2 linked regions of the Homo sapiens genome follow. The protein of the gene in region 1 purifies or fractionates together with the protein of each later gene. This does not show direct contact. Each region holds a gene or a part of one and is shown on either strand. Other genes may lie near its edges.

What was found.
Region 2: the proteins of FLVCR2 (region 1) and EPN1 purify together in Homo sapiens (affinity purification with mass spectrometry; 2 studies listed by BioGRID and IntAct, with this or other methods). This does not show direct contact.

The regions. Positions count from the first base shown.
Region 1 is NC_000014.9:75,641,895-75,648,667, reverse strand, and holds the end of FLVCR2 (choline/ethanolamine transporter FLVCR2), read right to left. Parts: coding exon 6,770-6,773; intron 2,268-6,769; coding exon 2,196-2,267; 3' UTR 501-2,195; downstream 1-500. UniProt on the Homo sapiens protein: Choline uniporter that specifically mediates choline uptake at the blood-brain-barrier. Responsible for the majority of choline uptake across the blood-brain-barrier from the circulation into the brain.
Region 2 is NC_000019.10:55,685,226-55,693,587, reverse strand, and holds part of EPN1 (epsin-1), read right to left. Parts: intron 8,193-8,362; coding exon 7,943-8,192; intron 4,719-7,942; coding exon 4,594-4,718; intron 4,292-4,593; coding exon 4,217-4,291; intron 3,722-4,216; coding exon 3,638-3,721; intron 1,835-3,637; coding exon 1,531-1,834; intron 903-1,530; coding exon 792-902; intron 638-791; coding exon 551-637; intron 1-550. UniProt on the Homo sapiens protein: Binds to membranes enriched in phosphatidylinositol 4,5-bisphosphate (PtdIns(4,5)P2). Modifies membrane curvature and facilitates the formation of clathrin-coated invaginations. Regulates receptor-mediated endocytosis.

The DNA.
Region 1 (6,773 bases):
GGGATGAGTAACAGGACGTTGGCCAGTTAGGAAGAAAAATGGTAACGCAAGACTGCAGCTGCTGGGACTGAGCCATGGGCCCCAGCCACAGCAAGCTGATGCATGGCTGAGGTAATCAGAGAACAAACATTTCAACCACCCTTTGAGGCAGAGCCAGAAACAACAGTGGACTCTCTCATCAGCAGTCACTCACATTCCAGCGCGTACACAGCATGGAAAGAGGTCAGGGTCGTGCTGGATGTTGAGTTGCAGTCCCTCCATGTAGGCAAACAGTAACCTTTACAGCCTTGTCTTTAAAAAATATCCCTCCCAGATGGTAAGGTCTGGCAACAGTGAGATGCTCCTGTGGAAGACCACAGTTGCTGCTTCTCTAGCCTCACACTCCCCCGCCCCAGCCCAGCCCTTCCCCACACCTAAGACAGGAGCCTCAGGAATGTGTGACAGTCTTGCAGGGACTTCTAAGAGCCATCTCTGCCCCACTGAATGATAAGGCAGACCACTTTCTGAGAAGTTTTTATTGCCTCGAAATGTCAGATCTTACAAATAGAAAACACAAATTATGTTTTTAAAATAAAGCAATAGGTTTGGTAAACATTTTGTTAATACCTTTTGAAGGGTTTATGAGTAAACATCTTTCTCTTTATCAAAAAGTAAAGCACACCCTCACCTCTCTTCCACACTGACTCACTACTTCTGCCGAAAACGTGGACTTCTTTCTTCTATTACATACAGCATGTTCCTTGCATCCATTGCTTGAATCTGTACAAACACACACACACACACATGCAGACACACACAAACCTGGCTCCTCTCAGGCAGTGGCCCAAGCACCACAGTATTGCAGCCAGCACAGGCTGCCCTGATATGCTGAGGCCAGGGCAGTGGCTGGAGCAAGACAGCACAGTGGTCACGATCACAGTTGCCCAATGCATAGGAAAAATTACCAAAACCTCATTTTTAGGAGATATTACCAAAGCCCATGAGTACAGCCAAACAGCAGGCTAGATAGGAAAGATCAGCTTGAGTTGGTTTAAAGGGAATCCCTTTAAGTTTAGAATATCTGATAAAGATTATCGCTCAAAGCAGGTGAGGAGAGGGGTTGGTGGTGCAAATACTGTCCCCAGCAGAGGTGAGATAAGCTTTTAATTCTAACAGGCTCAATTCCCATTTCAAGGGGCACCTTTCCTTCTACCCCTTCCCTCTTATCTCTCAGAAGCACCTTTGGATTTTCAGAGTAGAATGAATCAAGATTAGTTTTCAGCAAAGGTTAGAGTAAGTTGACGGGGATTACCCTGCCTTGGAATAAAACAAGCACTTGGGCTGATGGCTGAGATTCCCAATGCAACATCAAGATAAAGGCATCAGAGGTGACTGTGACACACAGAAGTCCCTGGGGAAGTACTTCTGTAAAAAAGAACCTTCCCATTCCCAACTCAAGCTACCAGAGTTCCCAAATATGTGCTTTCACAAATATACTCAGAAGGTAGCCCCCAGCATGATCACACCTAGGTAGGTAGCCCTCCTGAGTCGGTATCTCTGTCATGGCCACAACAAAGTCTTTTGTCAAGTTTATTATGGTTGGTTTGCTCAGCTCTTAGGAAAGAGGGTTTGGAGACAGACCCGTTAGGCCAGGAAAATTTAGGCCCACAAGTCCCGGTGGAGCTGTTCTGATGGAGTTGTTCTAATGGTGCTTCCTCTCCTGCAGAACTTGAGCAATCAGTCCGATGACCCAGGAGATGACCCCGGCAGAGCAGCTTGCCACTTATTAGAACTGGGCTTCATGAGAGGCTCTTAGGACACTGGAAATTTCAAGTTAATATCCTGAATAGGCTTTCTTCCTGTGAAAATTTTGCAGGCATTGTCCACGATGGATGGAGGAAAAGAGGGAAGGCAAGAGACCAAGCTAGGATTGACTCCAATATTCTCTGCCACCCTGTCCCAACACCAACTCCCATAACCTAAAAGGGGGTGGAGGTGGGAATCAAATTTGCATTTGGTGATAGGTGCAATTTTCTCCAACTAAATCATCCAAGCTCTTACGTGGGTTCTAGGAGGAATAGGCCATCCATGCCACAAATAGTCCCACTGATTCCCTCCAAAAACATCTCTAGCGAAGCCCTTTGTGCTGGCGGTGAGAGCTGTGCTGAAGGAAAAGGTGGGGTGTTCGTGTTCCCTGAGTTGTCACCACCTTCCTCTCAGAGATGATCCTCTGACACAGCAGTGGGCACTTTGCTGGTGTTGCTCTCCTCCTCCTCCTCTTGGAGTTTCTATAAAGCAAAACAAACAGGCAGTGCTGTGGGTAAAGGCACAGCACTCCACCCTGGCTGGAGCAGCTGCCTGGCCATGACTAATCAGTGGGGAATACAAGAGCCGGGGGCCACTCAGCATCCCAGAGAGCCAAGAAAGAGAACAAGAAAAGAAGCAACCAGCCCCTGCCATAAATGCACCCACAAACACACACCACCCAACATCATGAGGTCATCAGAGGGAAAAAGGGGCAAGCTTTCTATGATGCCAAGGCCACCACAAATGATCCAGCTCCGAGTGCCACTCTTTCAGGCTCACTCTCGGGACTGAAACAGAAGCAAAGCCCCTTTTCCCTCCACATTCTGACAGCTGAAAACTCACCTCAACTAACCATCAAATCACTGTCCAAGGTGCCAGGTCTGCGATTCCCTTGGAATTTCCAACAACCCCCACTTGGAGGCAGCCCCAGGATGAGGAATACTTTTTTTTTTTTTTTTTTTTTTGAGATGGAGTCTCACTTTGCTGCCTAGGCTGGAGTGCAATGGCGCGATCTCGGCTCACTGCAAACTCCGCCTCCCAGGTTCAAGTGATTCTCTTGCCTCAGCCTCCCAAGTAGCTGGGATTATAGGTGCCCACCACCATGCCCAGTTAATTTTTGTATTTTTAGTACAAACAGGTTTTCACCATGTTGGCCAGGCTGGTCTCGAACTCCTGACCTCAGGTGATCCACTCACCTTGGCCTCCCAAAGTGCTGGGATTACAGGCGTGACCCACCGCGCCCAGCTGAGGAATACTATCATAATGAACATGCAGTAGATGCCAAAGCAGCATGCATAATTGCATATGTAAGCTCAATGGCTTTAGCTTTCTAGGGGAGGGATGGCACAGGATTCATTTACAGGAAAGTCTTCTAAGTCACACTTTTTAGGTGAGTTTGGAATTCAACATGGCCTGGAAATTATCCTGTGGGGCCCCTAGGTACATACTGCCAACCTGGGCCTTTGTCTACTGTTTTAAGAAGTACTTTGTCTGTGACCTCAAGGGTTCTTCTGATTCACAAGAAGGCCTTGGGCACAGGTGCAGCACCACACAGCCAACACTACTCAAGGCCTAGAGGACATGCACAGGGCTAAGACAGAAGCCAATGTCAAGTGGACAAATGGTGCTTTCTTCCCCAGGGAGTGTCTCAGTGCCTGTTTGTGGTAATGGAGACAGCTGTAGAATCCAACCTTCCCATTCTCAATCTTGCTAACACTTGGCATCAAGTCAGCCTCAGCCATGAGGAGCCATCATTCAGGAAACTAACAGCCTATTTCAGTCACTTAGTCTCCCCTCTCTCTCTGACACACACACACACACACACACACACACACACACACACACACACCACGCCCGCCTCCTCCAAAGCCATCACCTGGAAATCACAATCACAAATGGGAAACAAGTTAGTGGAGACAGAAGTGCAACTACTGTCTATGTGCTAGAAGAAAAATGGAAACCCAAACCAGTAAGATGTTCATAGTCAAGGTCAATCATTACCCTGTCCCAGAAGTCCCATCTCTTTTTCCCTAAACTATACATCTCACTGATTAGAAAGAGCAGGTCTGGCCAGATCTGCCGTGTGCCCAGTCTTCACCTGACTCTGACAATGAATTTGTCCACAGGTCTCTGAGTTACACCAGCTGCCATGGGGTGCGTAATGTCACGGCTCCAGAGGAGGGCTGCTCTGTGATGGCCCTGGCTTCCTTGCTGGTGTCAGTCCCAGCATGACTTTGACCCCCCATAATACCATGCTGCCACAGGTGCCAGGGAGGTCTACAGACACATAGTGAATTATCCAGGGACACAAGACAGGTGAGCACCATTTATTGGAACCTAAGGCTGTTATTCCTACTCAGCGCTATTTCCAGCACCCCACACTCAAAAGAGACTGAGCCAACAATTGTAACCTTGATTAACAAACCTGGTCCATGTACACAAAGAGCTGGCTGCAAGAATAATGAAATAGTGGAACAACTGAAATATTGAGTGAGATGGAAATACACAGTAGACATGAGGTTGTGGTATAATGTAACACTGTAGAAATGTTATCAAGCTATACTAAGTAAGCAGGGTAGAAAACAAAATATACGCAAGCATGTCCATAGATTACAACACTGGAAATGCTACTAGGTTATCTCTGGGAAGCAGGATTATAGGTGATTTTTATTTTCTTTGTTTGCCTATGTCTGCCAACATAAACACAGGTTATAAAGTCAACACAGCAAATCTTATGTCACTTGACATAATACGTCACGTTCCAAACTGAAACCTTTCACTAGGCTATACATATATTTACCCAAGTGTACCAAATCATTTCTCTCTCTCTCTTTTTTTTTTTTTCGAGATGGAGTCTTGCTCTGTCACCCAGGCTGGAGTGCAATGGCATGATCTCAGCTTACCGCAACCTCCACCTCCCGAGTAGCTGGGATTACAAGCGTGCGACACTAGCCTGGCTAATTTTTGTATTTTTAGTAGAGATAGGATTTCACCATGTTGGCCAGGCTGGTCTCAAACTCCTGATCTGCCCACCTTGGCCTCCCAAAGTACTGGGATTACAGGCATGAGCCATCGCGCCCGGCCAGTGTACCAAATCATTATGTCCCCTTGTACACAGTGTGGGTGAAAAATCCATCTCCACAGTGGCCATACTATGGCCCTGACACAGAATTAAAGAATGTCATTCCTGCTGAAAGGCCTTCCCTGTCTCCCCAGTGAATTTCCTGTTCTAGGCTCCTTCTTCCACATGCTTTTCTGCTGCTGCCTGCCAACTCTAGAACGTAATAGCAAAAGACAAATAGTAAAGACCTAAAGATTATCATCTATCTGCCAACACAGATCCTTCAAACACTAAAAATATCCCTTACAGATATCTCTTGCCTTAGAAAATTGGCGAAGATTTTTCAAAATGAAAAATACTCAGTGTTGGCGCTCATATGACTGCCTAGCAATAGAAATTGCTAGTACTCAAAGTACCTTTCTAGAGGACAGTTTAGCAACACATACCAAAGTCTTTGAAATGGGCATGACCATTATTCCATTTCTCCAGGAAATATGGTACTTGAGAACATGCACAAAGATTCAGCTTCCAACATATTAATCACAATATTATTTGTAACAATTCAAAACAACCTTAATGTCCACAGACAGGAAAATTGCTAAATAAATCATGGCTTATCCGTATAAAGGAACACTATGCAGGCATTAAAAGTATGTTGTAGGCCAGGTACAGTGGCTCACTCCTGTAATCCCAGCACTTTGGGAGGCCAAGATTGGTGGGTCATTTGAGGTCAGGAGTTTGAGACCAGACTGGCCAACATGGTGAAACCCCGTCTCTACTAAAAATACAAACATTAGCTAGGCATAGTGGCGTGCACCTGCAATCCCAGCTACTTGGGAGACTGCGGCATGAGAATCACTCGAACCCGGGAGGCAGAGGCTGCAGTGAGCTGAGATTGTACCACTGCATTCCAGCCTAGGTGACGGAGCAAGACTGTGTCTCATAAAAAAAAAGTATGTTGTAAGAGACTAGTTGCCTGATAAAGTGCTTGCAATAAGTGAAAAAAGCAGTTTTATTTCTGTTTAAAAATATGCATTTATATACACACATTCATATATCCACGTATATATTATAAGTGGATACAGACATGCAGCAATCAATGCAAAAAAGGCATCTCATCTCTAAATGATGAAATTACAGGATGATTTTTAAATTTTGTACACTTTTCTGTATTTTTTACTTATTCTACAAAGAGCATGTATTACCTCTATAAGTTTTTTTTTAATTTTTGAAGAAATATCTTACCTTTGCTCTTTCTCAGATTTGAAATTCCTTTCATCATCACTCAGATTTGATACCTAACATTTTGTTTAAAGTGGTTCCCAGCTGGTTAGAACAGATGGAAAACACTTTTCTGTTCTAGGTCATACTCCTGGTCCTCTCCTCTGCTACCTCGCCAGCTCCTGCTTCCTGACTTGTCCTTTCAGAGCCCCACTGGCAATTCTTTGGCTCCGTCCCCATGGCCCTGCCTAAGGAGTTGTCACATGCCAGGAGAGTCACAGCCTTAGGGCCAGCACTGCCATGACAGAGTGGTGGAGCCAGGCTTCCCCTTCCTCCCCAGCCACTGACCCCAGGCTGAAAACAGTGGAGCCAGAGCCTCAGGACTCGGCTCAAGATCCAGTCAGGGGTGCTGTTCAGCAGACTGTGACAACGGTGACACACTCTGGGGATGAGGCCGGGGGCTCCAGAAAGAGGGCAGGAAGTGGGAGAAGAGTCCAAGAAAGGGTAGCAGTAGCAAGAACGCAATGCCAAAGATGCCCACTGAGGAAAGTCTTAGGATGCCATGTGTAAGGGATGAACTGGTCTCCCAGCTATGACAAAACCAGTCCCTGTGGGAGTTCTCCCTGCCCCATCTATGTTGCCACATCCTCATCAAAAGCCTTGGACCCCGATCTCAGCCCCACAAAGCTCCCATATACTCACGTTC
Region 2 (8,362 bases), on another chromosome or scaffold:
CTGACGAAGAGCCACTCAGGACTCAGCAGATGGGCCCGTCACCGGCGATGGGCGCCAGCTTACGCCAGCTGAAAACCCCAAGGAGCCAGGGCAGCTAAAGGCAGCACCCATGAGGACGCACCCTGGCCAGCCCAGGAGCCACCAGCAGGTGAGTGGCGACCCGGAAGGGGAGCCTCGGCTGCCTTCCAAACCCCTGTCCACGCAGCTCACTGCACAGGACAAGACAGTCCGTGTTCTTTGAGACACCTGGAGAGTTTGCAAGGCACTCAAGCAACGTGGAGGCAGAGACGGGTCAGAGGTCAACATTCGGGTGGGAAACCTTGAGAACAATTCTCAGTTTTTCTCTAAGTCTGCAATTTCTCTAAAATAAAGATGCACACTTCTTTTAAAGACAGGTGGATGGTTCTGGCCCACTCTACCCAACTGAACTTTTCATCCCTAAGTCCAGCCGGCCCTGCCTGGAGTGGGACAAAGACAGCAAGGGACGGGGCTCCCGAAGAGCTAGGGGAGGCTCCCTCTCGCCACTGGGCAGGGGAGGGCAGGGGCTCACCTGCGCTGCTCCCGGAGGTCGGCAGTGCCGTGCGGAGTCGGTCAAAGTCAGAGAACTCGTCGGGCTCCGTGTCGAATCCCCCGGCTGCTGTGGGGTCAGGATGTTCTGCTCAGCCCCTCCCTGGGGCCCCGCCTCAGCCCCCACCTCCAGTCCAGGCGTCCACCCCTCCCTTAGGACACTCAACACTAACTTCTCCCACTCACTCCCACCCGGGGCTCCATTCCCACCCCCATTCCAGTACCTGTTGTGCCATTGGTGCTGGGCTTGGCAGGTGACCCTCCCCAGGGATCTGAGAAGGCCGGGGCCGGTGTCCAGGGATCGGAGGCTGAGGGCCCACTGACCGGGACCCCACCTGGGTGAGGACAGAAGAGCATGAGGGGCTGGCAACCTTGACTGCCCAGATGGCTAGGGAGGACCATTGCCTCCAAATCTGTGGCTGTTCACACAAAAGCCCCCCTGCCCCCCAGAAACCCACCCCACCCGGCCTCCCGCACACACACTCAAATTCCAACTGGGCTTCTCTGCCAGGCTCTGCCCCTGGGACCCCAGCTGGGGTGAGGGGCTTCCCCGCAGCCTCTGCCAGACCTGCCCAGCCCTCCCTCAGCTCCCACGGCTCGGCCACCCCTCCCCTGTCCAGCTGGGTGTCAGGCCCCTTCTCCACCTGCACCTCCCAGCTCCACCCACCGCCCTCCCCAGATGCCTACGTCACACACGCTCTGCCTTGGCCAGAGCCTCTCTGCCCCTCGGCTGAGCTGCCATCCCCTCCCCACAGCACACCCCCCATGTCCTCCAAGGCACAATCTCACACACCCTGTGCTGGGCTCTCATCTGACCCCCGCCCTTGCCCCCTCCCCTGCACCCAGGACGCCCCACCACTGCCCGGCGCCACTGGCTCGATCTGTCCCTGTCCAAGGGCACAGTCAACCAAAGACAGGTGCACACAGGCGTAGGGGCTGCATGCAAGTGGGCCACGCACTCACCATCGGAACTTCCCCATGGATCAGGCGTGGGCCCCTCCCCAGCTGCAGGGGCTGGGGTCCCACCCCAAGGGTCAACTGAGGGTCCTGCAGGGGCAGCAGGCCTCCAGGGGTCCCCAGAGGCCGGCGTGGGGGCTGGACCTCCCCAGGGATCAGCAGCTGGAGGGACAGGGGGGCCGCCCCAGGGGTCCGAGGTGGGGGCAGCCGTGGGGACGGCAGCAGCCATGGGTGCTGGGCCCCCCCAGGGGTCTGTGGTCGGGGCAGGAGCTGGGGCCGTGAAGACGTCAGCAAGGTCCATGAGGGACGACTGTGGGGGAGAGAGAAGAGAAGGAGCATGAAGAAGTGGTGGGAAGCCTGGGACAGGGACCAAGCTGGGGCCCGTGGCGGGGGAGGCGGCCAGGCCCTGGGTGTCCAGACAGCAGCCATCCATAAGGGGTGAGAGGGAGGCAGGCCCCAAACACACCACCTGGCCTCCCTCCTCATCCGTCATGGGGTCGGCCCACCCCTGCCCACCTACCCCACCCGAGGGTACCACCAGGGAGCCCCAACACAGCCCCACTCCTGCCCCACATCCATTCTCCACACTGCAGCAGGGCAGCCCCTTAACTCCACCTGCTCCCAGGTCCTTGCCCGGCCCTGACTGAGGATGGAGGCCAAGCCCTCCCCTCGCTCGACCCGAAGCAGCTCGATCCTCCCTCTGCCCACCGTGCCTTCTCCAGCCAGACTGGCCAGCCCCTGCTCCATGCCTTCCCCTGGGAAGCCCCCCATGAACCCACTCAGGTCAACCTGAGCACCCCTCACGATGCCCCCTACGTTGCCCCGCCGTCACCCCGCAGTCATCGCGCTGCAGGCCTTCCCACGCCCATTGCCCCACTGTCACCCCGCAGTCATCGCACTGCAGGTCTTCCCATGCCGCACGCACACGCATGCATGGTCCTGTGTTCTGGAAGTGGGCACACGACGGGCCCAGCTAACCAGAGCCCGTCTCAGAACGTGCAGATGCCCCCAACATACTCATGCACACATCTCCAGTCAGCACCCGTGAGGCAAAGGCCCCGGCGGGGATGGGAAGGGGAGAAGAGCTGAGTCCAGGGCAGGGCAGGAGAAGAGATGGGTGAGATCTGGTGCTCCCCCAGCAGGGCAGCCCTTACTCGGGTCACTGGGCTGTGGTGGACACTGATAGAGACCCCCTGGCCGAGGCCAACCTAAAGAGGCTTTCCGTCTACCAAGAAAGTCCCACTGTGCCTGATCACTTATGGCCACAAGCTGTCTGCCGCCTCCCATGGAGAGGAGGCCTTGTCCCCACCCCTCAAACTTGGGCTGGCCTCAGGACCTGCTGAGACCAATAGCAGTGCACAGGCTGACGAGGCAACTCCAACCCAGCCCGACGAGCTTGTCCTGGGGGGCGGCAGCAGCAGCAGCTACTGTGCTATGAGGACACTCAGGACAGACTAGTAACCAGGGAGAGGCCAGGGGAGGAGGCTGGAGGGCAAGGCCAGTGCGGACACCCCGGGCCCAGAGGCATGAGTGACCTCAGCCATGACACGAAACAACCAGCCAGCGGGCCCGTCACAGGGAAGTACTGAAGCGTGACCTGGAAGCACAAGGTTGTGGGAGGGTTTGCTACTCAGCTGCAGAGCATGGGGACGCCACAGAAACAGTGTTCGCGAGGGCGGGACCATGCCTCCTCGCTCACCAACAGGCCCTGGGTGTGCAGCACACGGCCTGGCACCAAGGAGGTGCCCGACAAAGTGTGACAGATGGGGCGAGCCCTGCACCCTCCTCCCTGTGGCCATGCCAGGCTGTTGGCCTATTCTGGGCCTCCCCATTCAGCTGTGGCGGCCGGTGGTGGCCCTCACGGTGCTCAGCCCGAAGGGGGATGGCCAGCGCTGACCACAGGAGGTGGCCGCAGGGCAGCCTGGTCAGTCACCGGCCTCAGCCCAGCAGGGAGGGAGAGGCACAGAGAGGCCGACCAAGCCTGGAAACCCGGTGCCCAGCTCCAGGACCTTGTGTTTCAGTCTCTGCTCCAGGGACCTGGCCACGCAGGAATGAGCGATGGGACGGACGGACACCTGCAGGGGCCAGGGAGGGCAGAACAAGCCCCGCTCACCTCCTCCTTGCCCCCAGTCTCCCTCTTGCTCTCCTCGATTGCCATCTGCAGCCGCAGGTCATCCCCGCGACGGATCCGCTCCTCCTGTTGGGGCACGGGCACGACCAGGGAGACATGAGAACGTGAGCCACGGGCAGATGCCACCTCAGCCTGGAAGCCCCAGCAACCCCTCCCACCCCAACGAAAGCGGCTGAAGGATTCGATGGGATGCGGACAATGTATGAAATGGGGATGGGGCACCTGGGTCAAAGGTCAGGCGGGACAGGGGATAAGGGGAGTGGGGTGCTGTGCTGGCGCACCCGGGGAGGACGGGCACCCGCCTCGGTGGTATCTCCTGCGTTGGGGGGAGGAAGGGACCCTGGTCACCCGAGCAACCTTGGCACAGCTGTGCTGGCCACCACCCAGGCTCTGTCTGACTTGTGGTCCTACATCCTACGGCTGAAGGTACTGAGGTTTCAACACGCGTGAGCCTGTGGGCTTCGGGCCCAGCAGGATGGTGGGGGGTGACTTAGGAAGGGGCGACGGGGCTGGTCTGAGGGGAGCCCCTGGCAGGGGCAGGGACAGGGAGGCTGCTCTGACCTTATCATGCTCTTCTCGGCTCAAACTAAGGGCCAGCTGGAGCTGGGCGTCGTCCTCGGGGCCGCAGGACGGGGGCTGGGGGAGAGAGAGTGTGAGGGGCATGACGGGAGGGGCCAGAGGCAGAGTCAGAGGCAGAGCCAGGGTCAGATAGAGCCGAAGAAAGAGAGGGCTGGGGGTCCCTGAACCAGTGAGGGACAGGCAGAGAGTGACACGCAGAGGGACGGCGGGGTGAGGATGAGGCAGGACTGGGGAGGAGACGAGTGACAGCATGTGGAGCAGCGACAGTGAGGGCCAGGCCCACGCCTGGCTGGGAGGGAGCCTGAAGTGAGGCGTGGAGGCGGGTGGCGGACAGACAGCCCCAGCTGCACGCCCAGTACCTGGTCGGCCTCCTCCTTGCTCATGGCCAGGGCCAGCTGGAGCTGCAGCTCCTCCTCCCCGCTGCTCTGCGGCCACGCCTGCTCCGCCTCGGGAGGGGGGCCTGAGCCCACAGCTGCTGATGAGGCTGGAGGGCGGGTGAGAAACGCGTGAGACCCAGACCAGGGAACGAGAGACAGGAAACCCCATAGCCTAGACAGACGGGGGCTTCTGTGTCCAACCCCACCCCCCAAGTCCCCCACCCTACAACCTCTGCAGGCCAAGACTAGGACTGAGAGGCGGAGACCAGACGCCAGGTGCTCAGAGGAGGAAGGGTGGGGATGCAGGCAGCCCCACCCACGGGAGGGGCCAGGCATCAGGGAAGGACCAGAGCAAAAGTCAGTCTGATAAGCAGGTGGGGAACCCCAGCAACCTCTGAGCCCTGCCACCACCAGGACTCTCCGCGTGCCTGGGGTCTGTCCCTGGGCCCCTGGGGGATGGGAGGTCCTTCCTCCCAGGTTTCCCAGGCCTGTTTCCAGGGCTTGTTGAGAATGGTAGCTCTGGCAGGGAACAACTGGAATTCAGAGGGGAGAACAGCATCCATTGAGACAGCGGGATCCAAGGCCTAGTCGGGGTTAGGGAGTGGGCTAGCGAGGAGCCCTTGGTTCCAAGAGCAGGAGGGGAAGGGAGAGAGAGGACACAGGAAGGCAGGGCCGGACCCTCCAGGAGGCTGCTGAGATATCCCCGGCCTCCACTGCAGCATCCTCTCAGCAACCCCGCCTACCCTCAAACTCTGTCCTGACACTGTTCTCTCCACCCCCAAGGCCTGTGGACCCTTGCCCCCCTCCACAGTGCAGAGGACAGGCTCCAACCAGGCCCTAGGCCCGCCGAGCACAGGGCCATTGCCCCAGCCTCCAAAGCCCCAGGGCGGACCCTGCCTCTCCTGCCCCGCCCTCCCAACCACTGTGCACTGGTCAGCAAGTTCTGTCTGCTCCAGCTCCAAGACGCCGCCTTGCACCTGTGTCCTGTACTTGTGTCCCCACCCAACCCACTCCCCAGGCCCAGGCCTCTCCCTGACGAGCAGGCCCTGGCTCCCCTTGCCCGGAGCCGCAGCAGGCAGCTGTCTGGCGGCCCCACCTGCACCGGGTCCAGGGGCCCCCAGGCTGGCCCCCGTGTGGTGTGCCCAGCAGGGCTGGGTGCATGGGATGCTCCAGGGAGCATGTGGGTGGCAGAGCGGGGCCGAAGGGTGACCATCTGGGGTTATGAGTGAGGAAAGGACGAGAGAACCAGCAGGGATTGACGGACTTGGGTGGGTAAGCGGCCTTCTGAGGGGATGGGCAGATGGAAGGGCAGCGTGGGGCACAGGTGAGGCCAGCGCACAGGGAGGACCACACCCCTGTGGCCCCTCCTGCTCTTCCCTGCCCCTGTGACTTCCTCCTAAGCTCTAGGGACTCTCAGAGGTGAGTGCTGGGAATCTACACCCCATTGCCCAACCTCTACCTTGCACATGCCCCTAACCCCCCAGCCTGGTGGTGGCTAAATCCAATGCCCAGCAGCCCTGAGGGCCCCACCTCCCACATCACAGGTAATACTGGCACCCAGCCAGCAACACCCGGGCCTTCCCATCACCAGAGCACCCAGCCTCGGTGCTGCCCGGGGACCACAGGCCCTTCCCTGCCCACTGAGGGTCTCAGGGCTCACTCCCTAGCTGCCCCCATCCTCCTCCCCAGCCACAGCCCTCCACACAACTCACTCCAAGACAGGGGCCAGCACACCACAGTGGCAGCCACAGCTGGCCTGAGAAGGTCTAAGAAAGGCCTTTACATTTTTCAATGGTTGGAAGAAATGAAAAGAATGCACCAAGATGGGCGAAAATTCAGAGTACCCTTAAAAAATTAAATAACAACTTAAAAGTCTTAAAAAAGACACGTGAAAACTACATAAAATTCAAATTTCGGAGACCTTGGTGAGTGTCGGAGGGGTGCAGCTGCTTCCCAGCAACCGCCAGCGGACGGGGCCAGGCAGCTAGGATGGGAAGGCGTGGCCAGCAACGCAGAGGACATTAGCTCTGGCCTTGCACAAAGTCTGACGACCCCCGAGCCAGGATGTCCCACCCTCAGGCCTCTTACCTGAGGCTCCCACTCTCCTCCGAGCTACTGCCAATGTCCCTCCTCCGTCCACCCCAACCCCGCCACCCACCTGCCTGCCTGCCTGCCTCGAGCTGACCAGCCCCTCTCTGCCGCCTACACTCCCTCCTGTTGTCCCTGGCTCTGAGCACTCCCACGCCACACCGGCTTCCTTCCCTCCACTTCACTCTCTCTCTGCGTTCACGCCCATCTACTGGCTCGTGGGTCCCTACTCTGGAGTCCCAGGCAGGGTCGCACACACCCCGTCACACCCATGTCTCCCCGTGGGTGCTGAAAGGTGATCCCAAATGAGACCCGTCCAAACAGAAGGCCTAGACTTCCCCAAACAAGTCCAGTCCCTCGAGCCGGACCCCACGAGGGCCACAGGCCCTTCCTCCTGTCTGCACCGGCCTGGCTGACCCACCTCCACCTCCAGGGCAGTGCTCTAGCAGCCCCTCCCCATCCCACGTATCCCCACTAACTGAGGCACCTCCACTCTTCCTGGAGAGCAGAAGAGCCTGGCAGACATTCTCCAGCCTCCCTCCCAGTCCTGAGCAGCCGGACTAGCCTCTTCACGGCTGTGAGCCCCCGACCAACACAGACCACACTTCCTGGAACAGTCCGAGACCCACACACCCATCACATAACTGGAAATGTTTCGTGGGACAGATCTTGGCTTGACGATGTGGGATGCACTATTTCAAGTTTTGTTTTCGGTGCTGGTCACCACCCACCAGACTGAGTCCTCCACCTCCAGAAGGCACTGTCAAGGCTCCTAACACAGGCCCAGATGCCTGGTGCAACCTGCAGGCCCTGGCTCTGGCCTTCCTTCTGTGCCTCTTCCAGGCCCCCCTCTGCCTCTCCGATGTTCCCCTCATCTCAGCGCAGAGAGAAGGACAGCACCCTCGGGGGTCACTGTGCGTGTCCCCTCAGAGCCCTGTCCCCAGCACTGATCACCCTCAGGCCCTGAGCCTATGGGGGAGCGGAATAAAAGTTCCCAATTCTAGGCCTGCCCTGGGGCACGAGGCAAGAGGCAGGAAGGGTCCCAGAGCTGCTGCATGGGAGGTGCTAAGGGAAAAAAAGGGCCCAAGTGAGACCAGAGCAAGGGGCCCAGGTGAGGAGAAGCAAAGGGGGATGCCGCGGTCCCTCCTGGCTGGGAGAGAAAGCAGTGGGCGGCCGGGTGCCGGGAGCCGCAGTAGGCGGAGGACAGACTCTAGGCCGTCAGGGGCCGCAGGGAGGGACTCACCCGTGGCGGTCTGTGCCAGCTTTTCCTTGGTCTTGAGCGCGTGCGCCCGCTCTTCCCGCAGCCGGTCCTCGTCGCGCAGCAGGGCCACCAGCTGCTTAGCTTTCTCACGCACGTTCACGCCCTGGTCCTTGCCGTCGCGGTCCACGTACTGGAAGTCCTTCAGCGTCTGCACGGCGTACATGTTCTCCTTGCACTGCTGCGACACGCGCTCCGAGCCGGTCTTGATGAGGTACTCCATCAGCGTCATGGCCTGCGAGCGGGCACGGGGATGCCCGGTCAGCACGCCGGGCACAAGGCGGGCCAGAGACTGCCTGCGACGCGGGCTCTGGGGCGGCCGACTGGGCGCAAGGCCCACAACCCACCTGTCGCCAGTGGGTGGACACACATCTGTCCCCACAGAATACGACACGGCCATGCAAA